Linked DNA regions of Homo sapiens: regions 2, 3, 4 and 5 are each linked to region 1. Evidence: fine-mapped expression QTL. A gene starts in region 1. Each other region holds a variant in brackets. All regions are shown on one strand. Distances are between the middles of the regions. Region 1 holds the start of MINPP1 (multiple inositol-polyphosphate phosphatase 1). Region 2 has its middle 16 kb from the start of BMPR1A. Region 3 holds the start of FAM245A (family with sequence similarity 245 member A). Region 4 has its middle 15 kb from the start of FAM245A. Region 5 has its middle 29 kb from the start of PAPSS2.

What was found. PIP is the estimated chance that this variant, and not a neighbour inherited with it, causes the effect. A credible set is the group of variants that fine-mapping cannot tell apart.
Region 2: its variant is the best candidate, but not a certain one, in a credible set for the expression of MINPP1 in skeletal muscle (FUSION, PIP 0.90).
Region 3: its variant is the best candidate, but not a certain one, in a credible set for the expression of MINPP1 in whole blood (TOPMed, PIP 0.84).
Region 4: its variant is the best candidate, but not a certain one, in a credible set for the expression of MINPP1 in blood mononuclear cells (TOPMed, PIP 0.71).
Region 5: its variant is the best candidate, but not a certain one, in a credible set for the expression of MINPP1 in esophagus mucosa (GTEx, PIP 0.55).

What each region holds. Positions count from the first base shown.
Region 1 is chr10:87,502,091-87,507,197 of GRCh38, forward strand. MINPP1 (multiple inositol-polyphosphate phosphatase 1) reads left to right here and starts at 2,803. Exons shown (of 5, transcript NM_004897.5): 1 at 2,803-3,462. The coding sequence starts at 2,826. MIR4678 (microRNA 4678) reads left to right here and starts at 1,791; the gene lies at 1,791-1,864. LOC112268064 (a long non-coding RNA gene) reads right to left here and starts at 2,744. Exons shown (of 2, transcript XR_002957094.2): 1 at 2,245-2,744. RefSeq lists enhancers at 2,773-2,862, 3,023-3,082.
Region 2 is chr10:86,738,251-86,743,357 of GRCh38, forward strand. No RefSeq gene overlaps it. Among named protein-coding and RNA genes, the nearest start is that of BMPR1A, 16 kb to the right of the region's middle. The variant CA/C (reference allele first, on the strand shown) is at 2,946.
Region 3 is chr10:87,407,504-87,412,610 of GRCh38, forward strand. It overlaps FAM245A (family with sequence similarity 245 member A), which reads right to left and starts at 197. Exons shown (of 3, transcript NR_046091.1): 1 at 1-197. The variant T/C (reference allele first, on the strand shown) is at 2,591.
Region 4 is chr10:87,390,586-87,395,692 of GRCh38, forward strand. No RefSeq gene overlaps it. Among named protein-coding and RNA genes, the nearest start is that of FAM245A, 15 kb to the right of the region's middle. RefSeq lists an enhancer at 1-887. The variant C/T (reference allele first, on the strand shown) is at 2,479.
Region 5 is chr10:87,628,606-87,633,712 of GRCh38, forward strand. No RefSeq gene overlaps it. Among named protein-coding and RNA genes, the nearest start is that of PAPSS2, 29 kb to the right of the region's middle. The variant G/A (reference allele first, on the strand shown) is at 2,578.

The sequences.
Region 1 (5,107 bases):
TAATTCCTATTCCCCCATCTTTCAAACTTGTCTCCTATGTTACTGTGGAAACTGAGGCCATCAGACTTGAATTCTATGAACTCTCTCCTGCCAGATCTACAAATTTATCCCCATGTTCACCCATCCTTCTAACATTCTCTTAGAAGATAAGGTCTCATCTCCTTCTGGCCCAAATCAAATTCTCTACCTGTGTTTTTGGTTCTGTCCTCTCCCATCTCTGCAAGGACCTTGAACCATTAATTTTCCTTTCTGCCTCTTGTATTGTGTTAGATTTGCCAAATATATTGCTCCCATACCCACAATTTCTTATGAGGGGAGGTGATGTTCCCATGATCTCTGCAAAGGAATAGCCATGTTTCGCACTATGCAAACTTCTCTGTACTACATGATTGGACCAAGTGGGCACCTATGTCAAAGGGCATCCAATTTACAGAGTGCCCAGATAATTCAGACATGGTCTGGCATGAAATGAGGAGCACGGCCTGTGACCTTTTTAAATTTTTTCAAAGGCTGCTTAGTGCTCTAAGAACAAGATATCCATTTTAAGTGAAATGAGTGGATTTTTATTATTAGAAAAGTTATGAAATGATCTTTGATGCATGTGTTGCCTGTGAAAGTCATTCACTTTAATGTTCAGTGGGAGTAAGTGTAATCCATGTAATTGCTAGAAAGCTAGGCATCTTAGCACAGGAATAATCACACTGAACATTAGTAATGATAAAAATATCATTTATAGCGGCCTATCATATGGATTTTAAATACATCATCTCTGTCATGATAATCCCATGATATAGGTTCTAATATTACCAATTTTCAGATAAAAAAAAAAAACTAAGGCCCAGAGAACTTGGGTCACTCAATTAATAAGCAGCAGAGCTAATTAGAGTCTGGGTCCAAAGCTTAAGCACTCTTCGTCTTCTTTATATTTGGCTTTTTCCTAGCCAAAAACATGGAGGCATTGCTTACTTTTACTTTATCATTGTTATCTTGGCATAACATCAAAATAATTAGGAGCTGATATACCTAAGTGTATAAAACAGGATAAAATTAATTGATGAGGAATTAGATAAGGAAAATAAAATCAAACTAGGGGCAAATTTCATGTATAAAAATGTGTACTGTGCCATACATTTTGTAAGTGGAGTCTCTAAAGATTGCTTCATAAGGAAGAAGTGAATAATGACTTTGGGAACACTTGGTAACCCCTAGGACTCAAAAGATTGGGTGTGAGAAGTTATTAGTAAGCATATGTATTAGGCAAAATACAGTGAGATGAACCTGGAACAAATGCTCGCTGAATGCACTTAGAAATATTATCAGGCGACTCAGCCTATAGAGCATACGGGTTAGAATGTCTATTTTAAGAAGGAGCGGATATTTACTAAATGCTAATTTGAGCAAAGTTCTACAAAAATATCACTGACCATGAATATTCAGGCATTGACATGCTACAAAATAGCATATCGAAAAGAACATCTGTTGCCCTAAAGATGGTTTCCTGCACAGAACGTCTCCAAATTTTCAGCATTCATAGGCTGGCCCCGTTTCTTCTTGGTTAACATTTAGAGGCACGCCTAAACTTAGAGGAACACCTCTCTAAACCAAGGAGACACTTAAAGAGAAAAGGAGTAAAGATGGTGATGGGCTTATAAAGAGCAATGTAATAGTGTCTTTGAAGCAAAAGCTAACTTAATGAAAACGTGGTCCCAATTTCCTTAAATCTGGATCACCGTACGACTTCTGTAATACTTATTATTTCCCCAGCTGGCAAATAAACTGGAGTTCAAGTGGGAAAAAACAAGGTATTGTTCAGACTTATGATTTTTGGGGTCAAAGATTCTGAGCAATAACCTATTAAAAAACCCAGCTTTTGATTTGAGTATGTAAGTAAGTACATGGGAGGAACGTATGGATCTGGAGTGGTGGTAAATACAGAGCATGTTTGCTTCGCAAAGCAGATTAGCTCATACTTAATAATAGAGTAAATCTGTTGGGCCATGACTCAATGCACCCAAATTCTCTAGATTGCTATGTCTCTACTCGCTAAGCCTTCGGGAACAACAAGCACAGAACTTTTAGGGTGCTGTCTCACTGATGTCGGCGTTAGCTCTGGTAGTCCAGGTCAAGATTATACCAAAGATTCAGGACTTAAATTCCTGCAGAATGTAAGCCCCTTTCCAAGTTCTCTGCTTTACTGTATCCTGTTTATTTTCAAACTCAAATGGAAAAAAACGAAACAAAAACCTTGGGCTTCAAGAGGCATCCTGCCGCAAGGCCCAGCGATGTGAATTTTCAACAACCGTCTCAGGCAGATTTCATGCTGATGGTTCAGGCACTAAACTTTGAAAAACACAGTATCACAGAGTAGGGATGGTGATGTAAGAGTCATCTGTAAAAGCTGTGCTGTTTTGGCAGCCTGGGAGGCTAAGGTTTAGTCTAGGCGACTAAGGTTTAGTCCGGGCTGTATTCACACCCAAAACAACTAAAAAAGCGGAGGAGTCTTTGAGTCAATCCCTGAAGCTCCGGCTAAGAGGAAACTCGCCCACGCTCCAGGGCAGCGACGCCGGCTCCACCTCAGCCACGGCTGTCTCAAGCTTCTCGGGGTTTTCCGCCGGCTCCACCCGAGCCACAAGTCTACAGGACTCCTCGGAGCTTTCCGCCGGGACGCAAGACCCACCGCCAGAGGTTGGTACCTCCTAGAGAACAGCGAAGCGCATCCCGAGGGCCGCCGGCCGGAAGCGCCCTCCAGACCCGCCCCCTGCCCTCCGGAGCCGGAAGCTGGGCATCTGCAGCTGGCTCGGCGCACTCCACTGACCGTCCCGACGATGCTACGCGCGCCCGGCTGCCTCCTCCGGACCTCCGTAGCGCCTGCCGCGGCCCTGGCTGCGGCGCTGCTCTCGTCGCTTGCGCGCTGCTCTCTTCTAGAGCCGAGGGACCCGGTGGCCTCGTCGCTCAGCCCCTATTTCGGCACCAAGACTCGCTACGAGGATGTCAACCCCGTGCTATTGTCGGGCCCCGAGGCTCCGTGGCGGGACCCTGAGCTGCTGGAGGGGACCTGCACCCCGGTGCAGCTGGTCGCCCTCATTCGCCACGGCACCCGCTACCCCACGGTCAAACAGATCCGCAAGCTGAGGCAGCTGCACGGGTTGCTGCAGGCCCGCGGGTCCAGGGATGGCGGGGCTAGTAGTACCGGCAGCCGCGACCTGGGTGCAGCGCTGGCCGACTGGCCTTTGTGGTACGCGGACTGGATGGACGGGCAGCTAGTAGAGAAGGGACGGCAGGATATGCGACAGCTGGCGCTGCGTCTGGCCTCGCTCTTCCCGGCCCTTTTCAGCCGTGAGAACTACGGCCGCCTGCGGCTCATCACCAGTTCCAAGCACCGCTGCATGGATAGCAGCGCCGCCTTCCTGCAGGGGCTGTGGCAGCACTACCACCCTGGCTTGCCGCCGCCGGACGTCGCAGGTGACCCCCCGGGCGGCCCGTGTGCTGTCCCGGTCCTCCCACCCGCCCTGGATGCTCTCCCGCCTCCCCCAGACCCTGGGCTTTTCCGATGCCCCCCAGTTCTCTTTCCTCTTTTCCCAAGCCATCATCCCTCGGGCTACGTCCTCCCTGTCGAGGGATATTACAGACTTGGCTATCTCTTTTTCCCCTTACACGTATGTTCATTTATTAATTCATCAGGTGTAAATTCAGCACCTTGTACTCGCTGCCTGCTTTAGTAGAGTTGGGGATCCAACAGGAAAGGGGACAGACGAGGTCTCCCGCAATTTTTGCGCTCCCGTTCCCAAACTGAATTGCCCCTTCGAGCGCCAACCCATCCCTTCCCCCTTCCCTGGCGTCTAGTTTCACAATTGGGCGCACGTTTTAAAAAACAGAATCTAGAATTTTCTTCCTCGGGCTTTGCTTCCGATACTAGTTTTTCCTTCTTTCTTTTTTTTTTTTTTTAAACTCATCATCTTTTTCAGATGACAGTTTTAGACCTACACCCTGTTTTAGGAACCTGATCTCAAGCCTTTGTGTCCTCCTTTTTTCTTCTGTTTTGTTCATGTTTTTACTGTAGCGTTCCCATCGTTGTAGCTGTGGTCCGTGGTCACAAGCAGTAACAACTCATTTATTCCATTAATTACACTTTTTCGAAATTTGAGAAATCATCTAGTAAGGCCCCGTTATTTCACAGGTGAAGAACCCGAGCCCAAGAGTATGCCTTCTTAATTGTCTTTCTCTAAGGTCTAGTATCCAAGTCTTCTGTTTTCCTAGAATGGTTCTTTTTCTCTTAGAAAATGTTGTAATAGTTACAAATAATAATGATAGCATACACCTCATGCCTATTGTATGCCAGGTATGCCTCACATTTATTTTACAAAATCCTTACAACCACAATCTGGAGTTGATAGTATTTTCCCCTTATCTCAAAGATGAGGAAATTGATACACGAACACATTAAATAATTTGCCCATTTTCATACAGCTAGCTGTGGACCCAGGAAATCTGATTCAGAGCTTGCTTTCTTAGCCATTATGCTATACTGCCTCCATTTGTCCAATAACATACCTAATAAGAATAAAAACATGTAACATTTTTGTACCACAGAGATGAGCAAGCATTAATAGTTTCTTGATCACTTTTAAGGCCAGAATTGAAGTGAGGATTATTGTTTAGCTTCAAAGCCCAAGTGAAAAATTAGAAGTAGGCTGGTTTGTAATTTCTTCTGTAGCTGTTGAACAGTGAAACCATCTGTAAGGGATTTCTCCACTGATTCTGTGTCATGTTATTGTGGGTAATTCAGTTAGCTGACTTGTGTCTAATTACTTGTTGAACTGTGTTTTTTTTTAAATATATACTTTTTCCATTAGCATGAGTGAAAATTCCTCATAAATCTGTTAAATTAACAGAATGGTGAAAGCAGAACATATTTTAATATAACACAATATCTATAGCGACTTCCTGGAACAAGTGAATTTTTGTTCTCAGATGGCATTGCGAAGACTGGCATTTGACTCTCAGTACAGAGCCAGGGATGAAAATACTACAGTTCAGAATAAGCCCACTCCTGACCGTTTTCAGTGTCAGATAGCAAACCCTTTGCCTAGCCACTTTATTATTCTCT
Region 2 (5,107 bases), 760 kb before region 1:
CCAACAGGCACTGGAAAGCAAAGAGTTGAAATGAGAGAGACGGAGTGTTCTGCCAGTGTGATGGCTTCTGGATCTTGTCATTCCCAAGGCTCCACACTTATCTTTTCCTTTTGCTCAATTTCCCCTTTATTCTTTTTTTTTTTTTTTTTTTTTGAGACAGAGTCTCACTCTGTCACCCAGGCTGGAGTACAGTGGCGCCATCTTGGCTCAATGCAACCTCCACCTCCTGGGTTCAAGCAATACTCCTGCCTCAGCCTCCCAAGTAGCTGGGATTACAGCCATGCACCACCACACCTGGCTTATTTTTGTATTTTTAGTAGAGATGGGGTTTCACCATGTTGGCCAGGCTAATCTCGAACTCCTGACCTCAAGTGATCCACCCACCTCAGCTTCCCAAAGTGCTGGGATTACAGGCATGAGCCACCGCACCTGGCCTTCCCTTTATTCTTGACCTCGTTTAAATTGGGTTTCTGTCACTTGCAACCAAAAGAATCTCAACTAATACAACATCCAATGCCAAATTCAGGATGTGACATTCTGTCATCCATGCTATAGCTTCAAGAAGTATTAAAACAATAAGATGTGTTTTCTATTTGTAATTGCACAGCTCTTTCAAGGTCTGATTCAGGTGCTAAAAATCATACATGTTATGGAAAACTTCCTTTTACCTTTCAGTAATTCCTAGAAACAGATTACCTCGAAAAAGAATGAGTTTGATTTTGTTAAACATAGTACCCTCAGAAGGGTCTTCATTATTAAAAAGAAAAAAAAAATGCTATGAGAGGATTTTACCCTAAACTTATTTGAAAACAAATGATATAAAAGGAAATATAGCAACTTTTCTAGAAATGAAGTCATTTGGAGTAGAACAGAAATAAACTGAAATATTTGACCACCAAGTAGCTAAGCAAACCTTTAGAAAATATAATGCGAGACGAGGTCTTCAGTTTATTATTTGGCTGGTAAATTCCCTTTGAATGCAAAACATTTATGTTATTCATATATCCTTGTCTGCTTAAACAAGGTGATTAAACTTCTATTGAGAAGGCCTTCAAATAATCCGCCATCCATGCTATCATTTCTGAACATGCATGCTAAATAAATGCAGAATGCTTATAATTGTAACTATAATTTCAAGACAAATACCACATGCCTTCTGACTGAATCTCTTCCATAGAGGAATTCCAGGGCTGCCACTGACTTAGTTCTCCATCCTCCTAGCCAACCTGCTTCTCCTCTTGTATTCTTTCTTTCAGTGAATTGTAGGCACCACCCGGTCATTGAAACTAAATATCTGGGATCATCCTAGTGTCTTCTCCCATATTGCTCTGACAACAAATAACCACCACAGGCTGCCCATGTACTTCCTGAACCTGTCTTGAATTTGTTTTCTCCTCTCATCCTCAGGACTCCTGCCTTTAAAAAACATCTCTCCTCTGCATCATCTCAGCAGCTTCCTAACTGATCTCCTTGTCTCCATTTTGCTCCGTATCCACCCCCGAATCCGTTCCCATTCAGGATCTCTCCAAAAATAAATCTGACCATCTAATGGACCTGCACAACTTATAAATGTCTTCTCATTATCCCTCAACAGAGCCCAAACTAACCTGCATTTACAAGTCCCATATGCCAGGCCGCTGTGTCTCTCCAGCCTCACTTCTCAACCGCAAGTGCTACCTTCTCATGATGTGCCATCGTCCTGGCCACAGCGGGCCGGTGTTCCCACCTCGGTATTTCCAAAACACTCCTGTATTTTCACATTATTTAAAAACTGTCTGTTTACATAGAAATAACCATTTGGGTCGGGCTCGGTGGCTCATGCCTGTAACCCCAGCCCTTTGGGAGGCCGAGGAGGGTGGATCACCTGAGGTCGGGAGTTCGAGATTAGCCTGGCCAACATAGTGAAACCCCATCTCTACTAAAATACAAAATTAGCCGGGCGTGGTGGCGCATGCCTGTAATCCCAGCTACTTGGGAGGCTGAGGCAGGAGAATCACTTGAACCTGGGAGGCGGAGGTTGTGGTGAGCTGAGATTGCACCATTGCACTCCAGCCTGGGCAACAAGAGCAAAACTCCATCTCAAAAAAAAAAAAAAAACATAATTGAAATAACCAAAGAATGCCATAATTGTTATTGCTTAGCTGAGAACAAAGTGCTGTTTTTCACAAACAAATTCTATTCAAAACCCCAAATATTTTATTAAGTAAATTCTTACAGAATACCTTTCCATTTGCAAATCAGTTATTCCCTTTATCTAACTCTGGTTCAGAGTATAGTTCTCGCCTTTTTCCTTCTGCTTGTTTAAATTCGGTTGCTGTCACTTGCAACCAAAAGAATCTCAACTAATACAATGTCCAATGCTGAATTCAGGATGGGTATTATCCTGAATTCAGGGTATCCTGAAAACTATTTCAAATAGAAGCACTGGGAATGCAGGAGAATCCCAGCATTTGTGGAAGAAGGATCACTGCAAGGCATCCAATGTGTGCCTGGGGTAGAAGGAATGCCAGTGGTGATGGCAATTCTATCTTGCATGTGGTCACCTCCACATCCCTGCGGAGCCCCTCTCATCCTACTTGTGACTTTCTGGTGAGCTGCAGGAGAGGGAAGCATTGTAGAAAAGTAGATACAGATTGGAGAAGGGCCTGACTCAGCCTGGAATCCAGTGTTTTGTGGGGCCATCTTTAAGAAAAAGAATATATTTGGGAGGCTGAGGTGGGTGGATCACCTGAGGTCAGGAGCCCAAGACCAGCCTGACCAATATGGTGAAACCCTGTCTCTATGAAAAATACAAAAATTAGCTAAGTGTAGTGGTGTGTGCCTGTAATCTCAGCTACTCAGGAGGCTGAGATAGGAGAACTGCTTGAACCTGGGAGGTGGAGGTTGCAGTGAGCCAAGATCGTGCTACTACAGTCCAACCTGGGTGACAGAATGAGACTCCACCT[CA/C]AAAAAAAAAAAAAAAAAAAAGGAAAAGAAAAGAAAAAAAGAATATAAAATTAGCTGGGCGTGGCAGCATGCGACTGTGGTCCCAGCTATTCTGCAGGCCAGGGTGGGAGGATCGCTTGAGCCCAGGAGATGGAAGCTGCAGTGAGCTGTGATCACACCACTGCACTCTAGCCTGGGTGACAGAGTGAGACCTTGTTAAAAAAAAAAAAAAAAAAAAAGCTGGCAGGACGCGGCGGCTCACGCCTGTAATCCCAGCACTTTGGGAGGCCAAGGTGGGTGGATCATGAAGTCAGGAGTTCGAGACCAGCCTGACCAACATGGTGAAACCCCGTCTCTACTAAAAATACAAAAATTAGCCAGGCGTGGTGGCACGCGCCTGTAATTGCAGCTACTCGGGAGGCTGAGGCAGGAGAATTGCCCGAACCTGGGAGGCGGAGGTTGCAGTGAGCTGAGGTTGCACCACTACACTCCAGCCTAAGCGACAGAGTGAGACTCTGTCTCAAAAAAAAAAGAGAAAAAAGAAAGACAGAAAAGAAAAAAAGGGGTTACAGTAGCTGCAAACACCAAATGGAGTATTCATTTAGAATGAGGACAAAATCACAACAAATGAGTGGAGTCCCAGAACTCTAGGTCACTTTCTTCTAAAGCCTACTTAGGCAAGTTATCAGAAAAGCTTACATAACAGTGTTCCCTGGGCTGGGCGTGGTGGCTCACACCTGTAATCCCAGCACTTTGGGAGGCTGAGGTGGGTGGATCACCTGAGGTCAGGAGTTCGAGACCATCCTGGCCAACATGGTGAAACCCCATCTCTACTAAGAATACAAAAATTAGCCAGGTGTGGTGGTGCATGCCTGTAATCCCAGCTACTTGGGAGGCTGAGGCAGGAGAATCGCTTGGACCCAGGAGGCAGAGGTTGCAGTAAGGTGAGATTGCACCATTGCAGTTCAGCATGGGCAACAAGAGTGAAACGTCATCTCAAAAAAAAAAAAAAAAGTTCCCTGATTGCAAACTAGCTTTCCCTCTCAACCTAGAATATTCCAGCAACTCTTAGCACCCATGGGGGTCTTTGGAAGTGAGGGAGGAGCCTTGAAGTTTAAGCTGCATTAGTTTCTTGGTAAAGCTACTCTAGACTCAGGCCAATAGAATAAAAGACACAGCCATTTTGGGATCCTGATTCCCTGGTTCATGCTCTATGTTAGGAATTGGCAACATTTGTCCAGGACTGTTCCTGGAACCAGGGCCAAGACATGCCCTGGAATTGGGAGGGGAAATCAGATTACTGAGTGAGGCAAGGCTGGAAATGGCTCTGCAGCTCCCTCCTCCTAAGAAGCGGTTACCTCTCTCCACTTTCTAGTTGAATTATCCCTATAAGCCCAGGTTTAATGGGAAGGTAACCCAAAGAGTAAGCAAGCTGTTGAATGGTATGGTAATATGAGGTTGCGAGTTTAGGAGGAAAGATGGGGTGTTGCAGAAGCCCCAGGCAGTGGCTCAGACCTGAGCCATAGATACCAGGTCCTTTTTTAGTTGCTTGGAATGATTTAAATGACCAGGATAATGTCATAGTTTGTAGGTTAATAACCAGAATGTGACTTTAGAGGAAAGGAAACAAGTTTTCTTATTGTTTGCGTGTGTGTGTGCATGCACCTTCTATGCTTATGCACAGTGCTTGGCACTTTATGTATCTTTTCTCATTGAACTTCACAACTCTACCAGGTAAGGAAGCCAAGGTTTAGATAGGTAAAATACATCTCCCCAAAATACCTCTCTCCACTAGGCACTTGATGTGAAGTCCTTTCCTTTGTGGAAATACTATATTCATCAGAAGCACTGGGAGGAAGACAGAGTTGAGTTTAGTTCCACATTCATTGAGCCTTTACTTTGAGCAAGGCCTCATGCTAAGTAACTAAGTACTTTATTGTGAATTCAGAGGCAAATGAGGCACAATCCTTGCCTCACAGAGCTCATAGTCTGGTTGAGGAGATAATTAAGTTATGCATAATTTCACTATCATAAGGCAATAAACGTTTCTTCAACTTTATATAAAGCAGACCTACAAGCAAAGGACAGTAAACACATGTCCTCTAGGAGCTTTCTGCAATTGTAAAATTTCTCTTACAATCTAATATTTTAGCTTTAAAAATCATGCTCTGTTTTAAGTTAT
Region 3 (5,107 bases), 95 kb before region 1:
TGCATGATCACCTCCACACCTTGACTGCCTTCGTCTGCAGCACGCTGCTGGTAAAGGCTGGGTGGCTGCACCGTCGTCCCCTAACCTAACATTGCTTTCATCTGTGAAAATTCGCTTGATAGCCAATTAAGCCATGGAGGCTATTACATTTACACGGAGGCTACGCACAATCTCAGGGGAGGCTCAAACAGCAGTTCGTTCCTCACACGCACTGTTGGGTGCAAAGGGCACCTGGAGAGTGAGGGAGACCTGGGCGCTTTCCTGCGGGGCCTTGGCCACGCGGCCGTCGCCCGCACCCTGTCCCTTGCCTGGCAGGGGACACAATATTTGTACAGATTATGGTATAATTTGAACGATTTCCTAATCTACTTATCTTAATTTATATAGTTTATTTAAATGTCAAGGCAGAGAAATACATTGCTCATGTTAAGGTCACGTGATGTGGTGGCGCAGTAATGACTTCCTGAGGAAACAGAGAAATTGGATGTTTTGTGATTTAGCTATGTGCACTAAACTTATTTTCCATGTTTTGAGAGCACATTAAACATTCACGTACAATGTGGGAATAGGCTGGCTCGTAACCAAAACGTCCAACCCAGTGCCACCCTTTGAATCGCTGCGAACACCATCCTATTGCGGTTCAGAGAAAACAAGCAAGGCTGCGAAGCCCGGGGGTTCAGGCAGCTGCAGCGCTTGGGCCAAGGTAGCTCCGCTCTCTGGTCTGAAGCCACGTGGCCCCACCCCGGGGCGGCCTGGCTTTTTTATATTGCTTATTGCTGTGTTTGGCATGCCATTCAACCCATCGGGATGTTGGATAGTGACTTGAGAGCAATACCTAGATTTGCCCTGTCGGGATGTTGCATACTGAGCTCGGAATAAGCCCTGCTCAATTGAGGCACTATCACTAGGAGGAGGCACTGATTCCCGCCTTTCAATGCTGTCTATTGGTGAAAGAGGAGTTGGATGGCATCTGGGAAATTAGTATCACTTCTACTTTTTCTTCTTTTCTTTTAAAGGTTAAAAATACCTTGTATTAGTTAATACTGCTATAAAATATGAATATCCAAATCTCTGTGGCTCAGTAAAATAGATTTTTTTTTCACTCAGAGAAAGTTCAGGTCCACCCTTAGTAACCCAGGCTGACAGAGACTCTTCCATTTTCTATACATAGCTTCCCCAATTGCCCAGAGAAGAGTGGAAAGATTTTATAGGTGACTGTACACAAGAATAAGAACTTAGTACCTAGTCACTAATTTACTCGTTGAATAAACATTTATGGAGCTTAACATATTAATCACTAGGCAGACGCTGGGACACAAGAAAAATCTTTAAGATATGTCACTGCTTATTACCAATAATGTTCTAGTGAGTAACGAGAGTTAATAATACGACTAATTATAGTATTGTAAATATAATTACAGTTCCAATAAGACATACACACACAGAGAACAATTTTATCTGGTGGTTGAGGAAATCTTTATTGATTTAAGATATCTTTTGATGAACAGGATTTTTCAATAACTATCAGAAAAAGAATGTCTATGACTTATTTTTAAAAATGATTTTCTTATCTGCCTTGCATATCTGACACTTTCATCTCCTATCTTCCTTGAATACAATATAGAACCTGACATTTCTTTCCTTTCAAAGATCCTTAGAGCATTTCCTACATTTAATCTGAATGTCTTTCTCAGTAATTTTTCCTATACAAGCAATTATGGCTACATTTTCTTAATATAATCATGAAAAGGTGAGCAAAACTGAAAATTTAATTTGGAGAATAGATACGAAACATATTCAATTAATTCAAGTTGTTGTTAGGCTGCATATGTTCAGCTTTCAGTGAAGATGAACAAATGATGATAAATGAGAAACTGAAAGAAAACAAACCAATAGGTGTTTTTTAAGAAACAATATTATTAAAGTGCATGTGTTTTCTACTGAATGAAAGCAACATAGACCTTTTCCTCACATTGGTAGTTAGTAAGATATATAAAAACAACTTTGTAAAGAACAATTAATACAGGTTAATGAATCATTGTGAAAAGGGGATAACACACTTTATTCTAGGAATGATCTGCAAGGTGTTAAAAGTTAAAAAAGATGAAGAACAATTGAGTAGTTATTTGATCATAGTGTTTATTAAATTGCTTTTCCTGTATCTGGAAAGCTTTACAGAAATGTCTTCAACAGAATAACTGTGTTAAAAGCCAAATGAAATGCATTATGAAATATGATTCTTCACTTGGTGTGCAGGTATAATCTCAGGTGTAATTCACACAAAGAGACAAATTCAATTTTAAAGTTCCATTTGTTACAATTTGATGATTGTGATTAAAGAACCATAAAAATTTTATCTTTGACATTTCATTTTTTCCTCACAAAAGCATTCTACTGTAATTTTCTTAGTTTTCTTTCCTCTTAACTGTGGTGTTACCTATAAATGCTGGATTTCTCTGTTTTACGTGCAACAAATCTACAATCAACTATTTCTGGAACACCACTTCATCTTAACAACAAGGACCCATAAATATTTTAAAAATTCAAAATGTTATATATAAAACGCTAAATGATACACATAATACATTTC[T/C]AAGTAGTAATTATGATTATGCCCATAATTATACCCATAATTTAAAAATATGTTACCTGAAGTAAATTATTATACATTTTATGTTGGAAGTGTTCATTTATCTTTGATCTCTGTTAACACATTGTACTATGTGGTAATAATATAAACTGCCTTACTGGATAGTGATGTATCTTTGGTTTCATATTGTTACTGGACTAATATTCCAACACTATAGATAGTGAAATTTAACATTGAAACAATTTGATAATGCCATCAATGAATCCAGTTTTTAAGAATGGGATCCATTTTCTAAAATTGAGTATATAGATACTTCATGAGATATCTTATCATGCATCCTAAACCAAACCAACCTCTTCCCCTGACTGTCTTACAGTGTATTATTATTTTATCCACCGCAGCAACTAGTACATTTTTCAGAACCTAGTAGATATTCAGTCATTGTCTATGGAATACATGAACACATTCTGAATTTGGACAGTCATCATTCTTGGTGTTTTAAAACAAACACTTCCTGAATTGCATCCACTATTTTCTAAGAAGCCCTAGGAATTCATTGAAGGAGGGTATGGGTAAGTTGGGGGTGAAACTGTAAAGATGTAGGTCCTCCTCCCAAAACTTCTTCAGCGTATCTTCATTGCTGTTTGTTTGTTTGCTTGCTTGCTTATTTTAAAAGAGATCTAGATATAGTCTAATAAGAATTGCATAAATGTGATGTTCCACAATGATTCTAACTTACATGGTGCAAAATAATAAAATATTACATTCTAGCTGTTTGTAGAAAACCATGGATACTATAAAGGATCTAGATTTTCTCTCTCCTTTCCTCCTAAGATTTATTCACTCAGCAAAGACTTACCTGGTGACTACTTAGTGCTAGACACTGTTTTAGATACTTGGGCTATAACAGTGAAAAGAACAGTAATTGAATTAACGAAAAGTTCATTTTAATTAGCTGTATGGTAAAATAGGAAACTAACAAAAATAAAATATAACATGTCAAATGGCAATGACTGCTCTGAGAAAAATAAAGGAGAATAAGAGGTTCTAAATTATTATATATGGCCAATATTACCAACATATTATAGAAAGCAATGAGTTCATAATGTTTATCAGAGAATTCCATGAAAATCGCTAAATTTTTCTAGAAAGCCAGGCACTGATAAGAGAATAAACAAACAGATAACCGATTTTAATTTGATCTTCTCTTACAGGTGCAGCTATGATCTGCCATTGTATATAATATAAAATTAAAAATTGTTTATATTTCATTCACGTTAGCATATAATGTTCTTACTTTTTTTTTTTTTTGAGACGGAGTCTTGCTCTGTCACCTAGGCTGAAGCACAGTGGCACAGTCTCAGCTCACTACAACCTCCACTTCCTGGGTTCAAGTGATTCTCCTGCTCCAGCCTCCCAAGTAGCTGGGACTACAGGCAGGCAACACCACGCCTGGCCAATTTTTGTATTTTATTAGAGACGGGGTTTCACCAAATTGGCCAGGCTGGTTTTGAACTCCTGACCTCAGATGATCTGCCTGTGCCTCGGACTCCAATAGTGCTGGGATTACAGGCGTGAGCCACAGTGCCCGGCCAACATTTTTACATTTAAATATCAGACATCTATCAGATTCCTTTCTCCCTACTACAAACATTGTATGCTTTTCGATAGGCATAAGATTTTGTTTTCATTCAGGTTGGATTCAACAAGTATTATTTAGCAGTTCATTGCATCTATCCATTTACCCAATAGAGGAAGTATACAAGATACAAATGAATAAAGTGTAATAATTCTTATACTATTTGCCCTTATGTCATGTAACTGCTCCATGTTTGTATTCCGAAAACCTAACTGGGAGGGAAAACTCAGAAAAATAGAATAAAAAGTATTATATATCTCATACATCCTCATTTTAGAATATTCTAGGGGTACAGATCAGTATAAATAAAATACTCTGGTAAGTGCCCACCACATCATCTGTTTGTCATTCTTAGACCCAGAGTATACCATTCTTTTAAGAAAGAAAACTTGCTACTGTACCTCCTACCCAGTAACATATATATCACATATCATATATATATCATAACATATATATCATATATCATATATACACATATCATATATCTCATATATATAACATATTTGCTACTGGTTAGGAGTAACACTCAGAAAATCACACTTAATAATGTAGTACAATTAGGTATAAATTCACTTAGTATTTTTAAATTTTACGTGTATTCCTATTTATATGAATGGTCATTTAAAATCACATCTACTGATCCTGATAGCATTAAAGGCATAAGAGGTACTGAGGATATTAATTTAATTTTGTTTACAGCTATGCACAGATATTTTTAGTTCACTCAGATTTAATCCAGTAGTCTATTATTTGATTAATTGTACAGCTATCAAATCATTCAGGACTCCCACTGTTTCAACAACGAGTGGAAAAATATTTTTTCATTTATGTTTATATGCAGCTATTTGTAGTCTAAATTAATATCCTAGCAATTGATGGTG
Region 4 (5,107 bases), 110 kb before region 1:
CCAGGCAAAACCTCAAGAATGAAGACATCTAATTTCAAGAAGGGACAAAGGGATCCCCAATAATTGGGAAGTCACGTCACACCTTGTTCTTGGCTAATACACAGCAGAAGGTGAAGTATGTTTTCCAAATGCCCCTTGTAATGAAACAGTTCTTGAATGTCTTCCCAGGACAAACTGGGAAGGGGAGCACCTATCTACCGCCGTTCCCGCGGTCCTGCAGTCCTGCAGGTGGGCCAGTCCTGCCAACTCTCCAACTCCCCTCGCAGAGCATAAACTGAATCAGGTGGCCGAACCACCGGACGCCAGAGTCCCCAGTGTCCGCGCCCACACAGGCGTAGGCAGCTTCCCAGGCTTTGGGCTGGGGACCCAGGCCAGGTCCCCTGGCTCTTGCTCCCGCCCTCCGCTCATGCTCACTGTGGCCCCAGGACGTGGGCGATGTTGCAGGGAGCAAGGGGCGCCTCTGCCTGACTTGCCGGGGTCGAGCCTCCCTGTCCCACCCCACCAGCCCTGGGAATACTGCGGCCTGGCACTCCCGAAAATCCCTCACTCACAGAGCTGAAGGACTTGCTGGGTCCCTGGTGGCCCCTGTCCAATCTTAGCCCACTGGGGTCTCAGCTGCTGTAGCCACAGGTGGACAGGCACAGTGGGCAGGTGCTGGGTCCAGGAGTCTCCTGTCGCCTAAGGCCGCCCGAAAGCAGCTAACTGACCTCTAAAGCCCCTAGACCCCCCTGCCCCCTTGCCGCCCAGGCAGGCCCGCCCCCACCGCTTGCCCGCTCTGCGATTGGCTGCGCCAGCCGCTGGGCGGGGCCTTCCGGCGTGCTGACTCCTGGCATGTGGAGCAGCTCAGTCCCCTTGCCTCAGTGGAACCGGGGGAGGGGAGCTGGGGGCTACGAAGAGAAGGGTCGGAGGCCTCCCTGGAGGGTTCGGATCAACTAAGTACCCTATTTAATGCCCTGGGCAGGTGGTTTATGAAAAGAAATTTACGGGAGCCCTGTGTGCATTTTCAGCCTAACCCTGCTTTTCCCTTAGGCCTAGAATGTTTGATTAAAATCTCCTGCAGGGCAGAGAGCCAGAGGACTCTAATCCAGTGGTTCCTGTTTAGTCCACAGCAAAGGTGCGGCCGGTTGGAAGAACGCACAGCCTGCAAGCAGAAGCCTTATCTCCCAATTAAGGGTGTAGAAGAATCTGGGCGTGTTGCTGGTGGCTCATGCCTGTAATCCCAGCACTTTGGGAGGCTGAGGCAGGCAGATCACTTGAGCCCAGTAATTCGAGAACAGCGTGGGCACCCTGGCGAAACCCCTTCTCTACTGAAAATACAAAAATTAGCCGCGTGTGGTGGCCCGCGCCTGGGGTCCCAGCTAGTCGGGAGGCTGAGGCACCAGCATCGCCCAGCCCGGAAGGTTGAGGCTATAGTGAGCCGAGATCGCACCACTGCACTCCAGCCTGGGCGAGAGGAGACCCTGTCTCAAAAACAAAAAAACAGCAGACAAAAAAACAACTGGTAGGAAAACGCACCCTCAAAACACATGATGAGATGGTCGAGACTAGACCCTAGGAGGGTGGGGACTGGCTGGGTGGGTATCCAGAGACCATGGGCGTTTCATAATGCATTGTTTCCAGTCTCCTCCACTCAGCGACTCTTCTTCCCCTGAAGTCTTGCATTAAGTAAGTGAATGAATCAATCATCAAGTTAATGAAGCTCTGACTTTGTACTTGTCCTTTGCTTGGTACAGTTGGGCACTGCCTTAGAAACAATCTCCAGGTAATTTTCCCAACTGCTTTTGTGAGGCCCAGTTTTCCATTTTAAAATCTAAGATTACCTCAGTAATCTTGCTTTTACAGCAAATGGGCATGGAGCCTGACAGATATATTTAAACTAAGTTATGGACAAGCTGCCCGGTGCATTAGGTAGCATAGGAGCTAACCTTGTGGGACATCTCCCCATATTCGTAATATTCACCCCTACATCTATAATCAATAAATGCTTGTTTGGAGGCCATAGAAACTCTTACTGAGATCTGACCTGTGTCTTCTGCTATCTGCCTGATTTCTCCCCATAGAACAGGAAAACACCGTGTAGGAGATATTGTGAATAGAAATATGAATATAGGCCGGGCGTGGTGGCTCACACCAGTAATCCCAGCACTTTGGGAGGCCAAGGCGGGTGGATCACCTGAGGTCAGGAGTTTGAGACCAGCTTGGCCAACATGGCAAAACCCCGTCTCTACTAAAAATACAAAAATTAGCCACGCGTGGTGGCTGGCGCCTGTAATCCTAGCTACTCAGGAGGCTGAGGTAGGAGAATTGCTTGAACCCAGGGAGGCAGAAGTTGCAGTGAGTGAGTTGGCACCATTGCACTCCAGCCTGGGCAACAGAGTGAGACTCTGTCTCAAAAAAAAAAAAAAATTACAAAAATTAGCCAGGCATGGTGGTGGATGCCTGTAATCCCAGCTACTCAGGAGCCTGAGGCAGGGACAA[C/T]GGCTCAAACCTGGGAGGCAGAGGTTGCAGTGAACCGAGATCGCACCACTGCGCTCCAGCCTGAGAGACATAGCGAGACTCCATCTCAAAAAAAAAAAAAAAAAAAAAAAGAATATAAATAGAAAATACAGTGATTCAAATAAGCAATTGTTAGTTCCTCAGATCAGAACTGTGAGTTCTATACTAGACTCTTACATGTTATTTCTTCTGGTGTCTTAGCAATGATTCTGAATAAAGATCAGACTCCTTAGTCAGCAGGTGGGACAGTTCTCAATAACAGAAGCTGGGTTCTCAGGGGATCCCGTGGATATGAGGATGAAGGTTAGAAGCACTTGGGACCATACCTGCAGGTCTGATTTGAGGACAATGAGACCAAGACAGGAAGGCAGCACCTGCTGAGGGGCTGGGGGTGGGAGAAGGGAGGAAACAGGACACAAGAAAATAAGTATAAACCACCAGACTGCAGTCAGTGATCAACAAAATTCCCAAGTTTATATTGAGAAGATTTCCCTGGTTTGGGGTTTTGAAGAGATTATATAAGGGACTCGGGTTGCTTGATTTTTCTCATTCTTTTTCTTTTAACTTGGTCTCAATTTTTTTGTAAAAAAAAAAAAAAAAGAATGTCTTATGTGCGCCTTTAGAACTGGTGAATGAATGAACCTCCCTTTTTAAATAACTGAGATTGTCACTGAAGCACTGTCATCCGATTTAGGCTTAAAAATCTGACACTGAATTTATCCTAGGTGATAAAGTGCAAGTCTCTTGTCTCCTAGAAATGATCAGGCAAGGAAACACCCAGGAGGCCCAGGGCAAAATGCCCTCCTGGAAGCTGGTGGGGTAGGAAGATGCTGAGGCCCAGTATGGTCCCTGGAGCATGCATTCTGTGTGGTGACAGAAATTGTTTGCTTGACCATACATTAGTCAGGCTTCTGAACCTTCTGATAAACGCATCTGTGCACTTTTTGTAAAATTCAGTTTTAGCAAATTACCCTGCTAAGTCAGTTTAGCTGGCAGGAATCCCCGTCCACCATATACTGATCAGGGTCCTCATCCCCCACCATCCCGCAGCTGATGTCAGATAACCTTGGCCTGTGCTCAGCGAGAATCTCGTTAGGTCAGTTTAGCCAGAATCCTCCCTTACCCTTGATGTTCCCTCGTAGTCATTTCCTATCTGCTAACCCCCATCCTCCTCCTTGACTATAATTCCCACTTCCTTGTGCTGGATTCAGAGTTGAGCACAATTGCTCTCTCCCACTGTAAGAACTACTTGCAGTGCTCCTAGACCTACATATGTGAACCTGTTTCTTTAACAGTGACTCACCTGTCTTTTTCTCCTTTCAACTTGATACTAGCTGAGGCTTATCCGCATCAAAGTGGAGGGACTGGCCCCGGGGGATCCTCAGGGCTTCACCTTGATGGCCTGCAGGCTCACATTCCACTTTTTCTGGTGCCTTCTGGCTCCCAGAGTCCAGTTTGCCAAACAAGTGATGGAGGTTGGAAGGAGGGATGAGGTGACAGAGGTGAAGGAGGGTAAATTCTTTTCTAAGCCCTACTTGCCTGACATGCATTTAGGTTTTTAGAAAGGAACGTGACCCCACCCTTTATTTTGTATCTCCCACTTCCATGACCAGCCTTACCTGTAAAAATGGGGCATAGAAGAGCCCCCATCTCCTAGGGCAGTGGTTTTGAGCAGGGGGTCACTGACCAGTAGCACCTTCATCTCTTGGGAACTTGTTAGGAAATTCTGGACTTGGGGTGGTAGATCATGCCTGTAATTCCAGCACTTTGGGAGGCCGAGGCTGGCAGAACACGAGGTCAAGAGATCAAGACCATCCTGGTCAACATGGTGAAACCCCGTCTCTACTAAAAATACAAAAATTAGCTGGGCATGGTGGTGTGCGCCTGTAGTCCCAGCTAATGGGGGGCCGAGGCAGGGGAATCACTTGAACCTGGGAGGCGGAGGTTGCAGTGAACCAAGATCATACCATTGCACTCCAACCTGGGTGACAGAGCAAGACTGTCTCAAAAAAAAAAAAATAATAATTCCTGGAAATGGATTAGCTTGCTGACAAGAGTTATTCCATTGTGTGTTTCTACCTGCAATACCTGAGGATGCCCATTTTCTCACGATTTATAAACTAACTCATTTTATAGACGTAATTTTCATACATTTGGGGGTATCATTCTAACTTCATTATTATTACTTCAAGGTGTTATTATCTCCCCGTCATCATCATGGTCATTATCATAACTAGTTGGTGCTGACAGTAGTCACCCTGCATTGAGAACTCATGCTCCAGGCCCTTTCCACATAGACTTGATTTAATTCCATTCACTCCTCACAACAATCGTCTGAAAGAAAGACTCACTAAGCCATTGTATAATTGAAACACAAGAGGTGAGTGACTTGTGTGCCCTTGGGCAGGTAATTTAAACACTCTGTGCCCCCAAGTTCCAATAGATAAATGTAAATAATAATATCTTTCTTACCTAATACATGGGGTCAACAGTTAAAGTACTGTACATTTGTGAGGTATTTCATGGCACCTGTGAATTGCTCATGTGATGACATAGTGTGCTTCCAGTGTCAGTGTGCTGGGAAGGAGACAGAATAGGAAGAAGACTGAAA
Region 5 (5,107 bases), 130 kb after region 1:
ACTGTGATCATTTTAAGTCATTTCCACAGTTAATTGCTTACTTCTGATACAGTTTCTGGAAACTTCACAAGCAAGCAAAATCCTAGAGCATTGTGTCTTCAAGGAGTTTCATGAAAACGATAAAAAGAACCCTGACAAGCACTCTTGAATAAGGCTTCTGATAGCTTTAGGATAATAACATTTGGACTTGGTAAGAATTCCCAGAATTCTAATGAAGAAACCGACTGGTTTATAAAATTGCTAACCTAAGCAGGATAAAAATTAATTGGATACCAAGAAAATACTTTGCCAGATTTTCAAGCTAAATCAGTCAGTATTGAAATTGTTTAAATATGCAATTTGAATGAATTTCATGCTCCAAGTCAAATGATAACTCATCTAATAAACAGTGCTATGCTCCTAAATTGAAGAAACGAAATTGATATTCAAGAGGGTATAAGTTCAATGTTAAGCATGGACTTATGGAGAGCCTGGATGGCAAACTAGACCTTCTTGGTCCTTAAAGCTTCCAATATTAAAAGCTTTGCATTCCATGACTTATAATGGAAGAAATAAAAATATAAATTAAACACACACACACACACACACACACACACACTGACTATTCTAAACTGCTGAAATAATTTATGACCAATGTTTGCTTTGTCAAACCCAAAATCCTGCAAAGATGATCAAAACTTCAGGTACATTTCTGATACCTGATGGCCTGTTTAAACATTTATAGAGGGATTTCATGCAATTGTTATTTTCAATGCATGTTTTCTGGTTGTATAGAAGGTTTCCCATGCAAGAAGATTGATGTTATTACAGCAGCTAAAAGGTTATTAGAAATTGTTTTTCTCTAATGGGACATTTCTGGAGAAATCTCTAGTGATAGAGGTACTTGTTTCACTGAACAAGTTGTAATAGTTAAATATGGTATTACAGATACAATAGCAATAAATAAAACTAACTGAATATTGAATTGCCTTGGTCAGAGGTATTGCAGAATGATGACAGTCAGATCCATTTAAAGCGGAAAACATAAGTTGACCCCTTATGCAATAATCACTGGAAGGCTTATGCACTTAATAATAGAAGCTCATTATCTTTTATCACTAAACTCTGATATGACTAAATGCGGCAAGACTTTTAATGCATTGTGCCAAAGTGTATTTTCACCAGGTGAAGAGGTTTTTCATGGTCCACTGACTAAGGACGATCAAACCCTTCACAATCTATAATAGAACCTGGAGACTGGGTCTTCTAAGAACAACATCAAAGAAAAACTACCTTTGCCACCCGCACTGCGGCAAAACTTGAGGATCTTGAACCTTGAGTTCACAACTCAGAAGCTCCCCTCCAGACTCTTGGAACTATATAGCCATTGGGTACCTAAGATAAAGCTAACCAGGGAAGTTTCTCCCCAGAAACAGACAGCATCTTTGACATACACAGCTTTTTCCCAAGAGCATGTTTTAAGGCTTCTCTGCTATCATGAGATTCTCATCTCTAAATTTTTTCCTTGCCTATGTCTCTGTGAACAATAGAACTGAAAAAGGGGCCTCTTGTGTGCACTCATGAGGTATACATTTATTTTTGGAGGATGTCACAGCCAGCCTTATCAATAAACAATCTTCTGCCTTGACAGACGGAAGAGGAAGGGCCAATGTAAGTGAGAAATTTTAATGGTAACTTTGTTGCTTCATTATCTATCAAAACCAGAACATTTGTCCACACCTCTTAACCTACATCATAGGTTAAAGAGAACATTGCCAGAGGCCTTCATTCTTTTGGATGGGCATCATTTATTAGGTCTGTTTTTCCATGGTTTAAAGTAAATGAGGCAATGATTAGAAATGTATCCCTCGGCTGGGCGCGGTGGCTCACGCTTGTAATGCCAGCACTTTGGGAGGCCGAGGCTGGCAGATCACTTGAGGTCAGGAGTTTGAGACCAGCCTGGGCAACATGATGAAACCCCGTCTCTACTAAAAAGACAAAAAAAATTAGCTGGGCGTGGTGGCGTGTGCCTATAGAAGGCTGAGGCAGGAGAATCGCTTGAACCTGGGAGGCAGAGGTTGCAGTGGTCTGAGATTGCGCCACTGCACTCCAGCCTGGGCGACAGAGCAAGACTTCGTCTCAAAAAAAAAAAAAAAGAAAGAAATGTATACCTCATAATAGTCTGTAGATCTGTACAGCAGATTCTACTGCAAAGGCTATGGTTACACAACAGACTTTAAACTCTCTTGTGTATGTTGTGCTAATTAATAGAATTGCTCTAGATCATCTACTGGCTAAACAGAAGTATCTGTGCAGTTGCTGATACATCTAGTTGCCCATGGGGAAATACACTGGACGTTATAGAGACTTGACTGTAGGGAATTAATGAACAGGCTGCTTGGTTGGAATGAATAGACTTTTTATCTAGCTCATTCTTTGGTCTATTTGATTTTAGTTGGTTTGGTTCATGGGAACCCCGGCTAAGGAGCATACTTCAAACTTTTGGTATTACCCTCCTGATAGTTGTAATAAGAGTCTCCCTGGTTTGTTGTATTCCCTCAAAAGTTTTAAATATTTGCAAGCAGCCATCCATAAAAT[G/A]TCAAATGGTCTTTCTTCAACTGGAATGATAAAAACTAAAAGAAATATGAACATGGGGTAACGTAACCTAAGAATGATATGCTGAGAGTGGAAACCCAAAATGATGATAACTGAGAGTGGTGCTAAGGCTGTAAGTTTTGGTTATACTCTCACCTAAATGAGAACCTAACCAAAAGGGGAGAATTTTTAAACAAAATGATGGGAGACCATTATTTTGGATTGAGCTCAGGTAGTAGGCCACAACAGACCAGACCAAACCAAACCAAAATGGAGTCACTCATGCTAAATGCGACATAATCAAATTGAAATTTTAATGAAGCAGGTAGGTCCTAAAACAGGCCAAGTTTCGTTTTTCTCCTGTAAACAGGAGATTGCAGCACAAGAAGGTCCCCTCTACTGTAACCCTTACAAACATAGGCTGGGCATGGTGGCTCACACCTGTCATCTTAGCACTTTGGGAGGCCAAGGTGGGTGGATCTCTTGAGCTCAGGAGTTCAAGACCAGCCTGGGCAAATGGCAAAACTCCATGTGTATTAAAAAACAAAAACAAGATGCCTTTATTCCCACCTTGCAAAACCCACTGTTTTGCTATTTCTCAATGGGATTTAAGACAGCATAAGGATATTTAGCATGGTAGTAGAGTAACATCAATGCCTACAGTTTTGGTCAATCTCTCAAAACTGGGGAATTGCTAAATTAAATTTAATCCAAAGCGCCTACTTACATATTTTAAGTTTGACCTAACTTATGGTATCTTCATACTGAATAAACTGTAACCTAACTGGATGTATTAGTCCATTTTCATACTGCTATGAAGAAATGACTGATGTAATCCCAGCACTTTGGGAGGTGGAGGTGGGTGGATCTCAAGGTCAGGAGATCGAGACCATCCTGGCTAACATGGTGAAACCCCGTCTCTACTAAAAATACAAAACAAAAATAGCCAGGTGTGGTGGCAGGCACCTGTAGTCCCAGCTACTCAGGAGGCTGAGGCAGGAGAATGGCGTGAACCCAGGAGGCAGAGCTTGCAGTGAGCTGAGATCACGCCACTGCACTCCAGCCTGGGCAACTTGAGTGAGACTCCGTCTCAAAAAAAAAAAAAAAATTAGACTGGGTAATTTATAAAGAAAAAGAGGTTTAATGGACTCACAGTCCTGCACAGCTGGGGAGACCTCACAATCATGGCAGAAGGTGAAGGAGGAGCAAAAGCACATCTTACATGGCGGCAGGCAAGAGAGTGTGTGCAGGGGAGCTGCCCTTTATAAAACCATCAGATTTCATGAGACTTATTCACTATCATGAGAACAGCATGAATGCCTCCATGATTCAATTACCTTCCACCAGCTCCCTCCCATGACATGTGGGGATTATGGGAACTACAATTCAAGATGAGATTTGGGTGGGAATACAGCCAAACCGTGTCACTGGATTTGTAAACAGACTGTAAACTACTCTTGTGTTGATCACTGAGTTTTGGCCTATCAAAGGCGGCCAACTCTTCAAACCGCATTCAGATAAGGCAATTGCCAAGCTGTAACTGATCCAGCCAGTTTTGTACCTCATTTTCATTTTCTGTCTGTCACTTTCCTTTTTCTGTCCATCAATTTTCAACCATGTGGCTGCTCCGGAGACTCTCTGAACCTATTCAGGTTCAGGAGTTGCCAGATTTGTGAATCATTCTTTGCTCAGTTAAACTCTGTTTAATTTGTCTTAGGTTTTTCTTTTAACACTCAGTTGTAACTCTATTGCCTACATAAGTTGGAGAATGAATATGGCTCTGGAGTGACCGACTGACTGGCTTGCTCAGGACTGAGATATTTTCCAGGACTTTTGATTTTAAAACCAGGACAGTCCCAGGCAACCCCTGATAGTTGGTTACCCTTTTTGGGTATTGAAAGGCTCTGAGCCATACTATGTGACCATTCTATTTCATTAATCTTTCTATTCTGAATCCTTCCTCTGATATTCTGTGGCTAGACCTTATCCTGAGTTATAGACCTGGGAATAATGCCTTGAAAGTTAAATGGTTCCTTTGGATAAAGTAAGTCTATTAACCAAAGACAAGTCCATTTGCAATGGACTTCAGCTCTCTGAGTCTTTATTGAAGTCTTGAGCTCTCTATTAAAATCAAGTAATCTCTATTAAACACAAGTAATCACTGGCTGATTCAGGTGCTTTATAAATCTATTTTAATAATTTGCTGGAGGTTGTAAATTATAACAAGGTGAATGAAGCCAGTGATGAAGTGTTGTGTTGGGATAGCTTTCTCCCTGAGAGGAGAAACTGAGGCAGATAAGAACTGAGAAATGGATAGAAAATTATCCAAAGAAGTTACACAAATTGGCCAATAAACACATGAAAAATGTTCAATATCATTAGCCATCAGGGAAATGAAATGCAAAACCATGAGACAGCACTTCACACTCACTAGGATGACTATAATAAAAAAGACAGACAGTAACAAGTGTGGGGGAGGATGTGGATAAATTGGAACCCTAACACATCACTGATGAGATTCTAAAACGGTGCA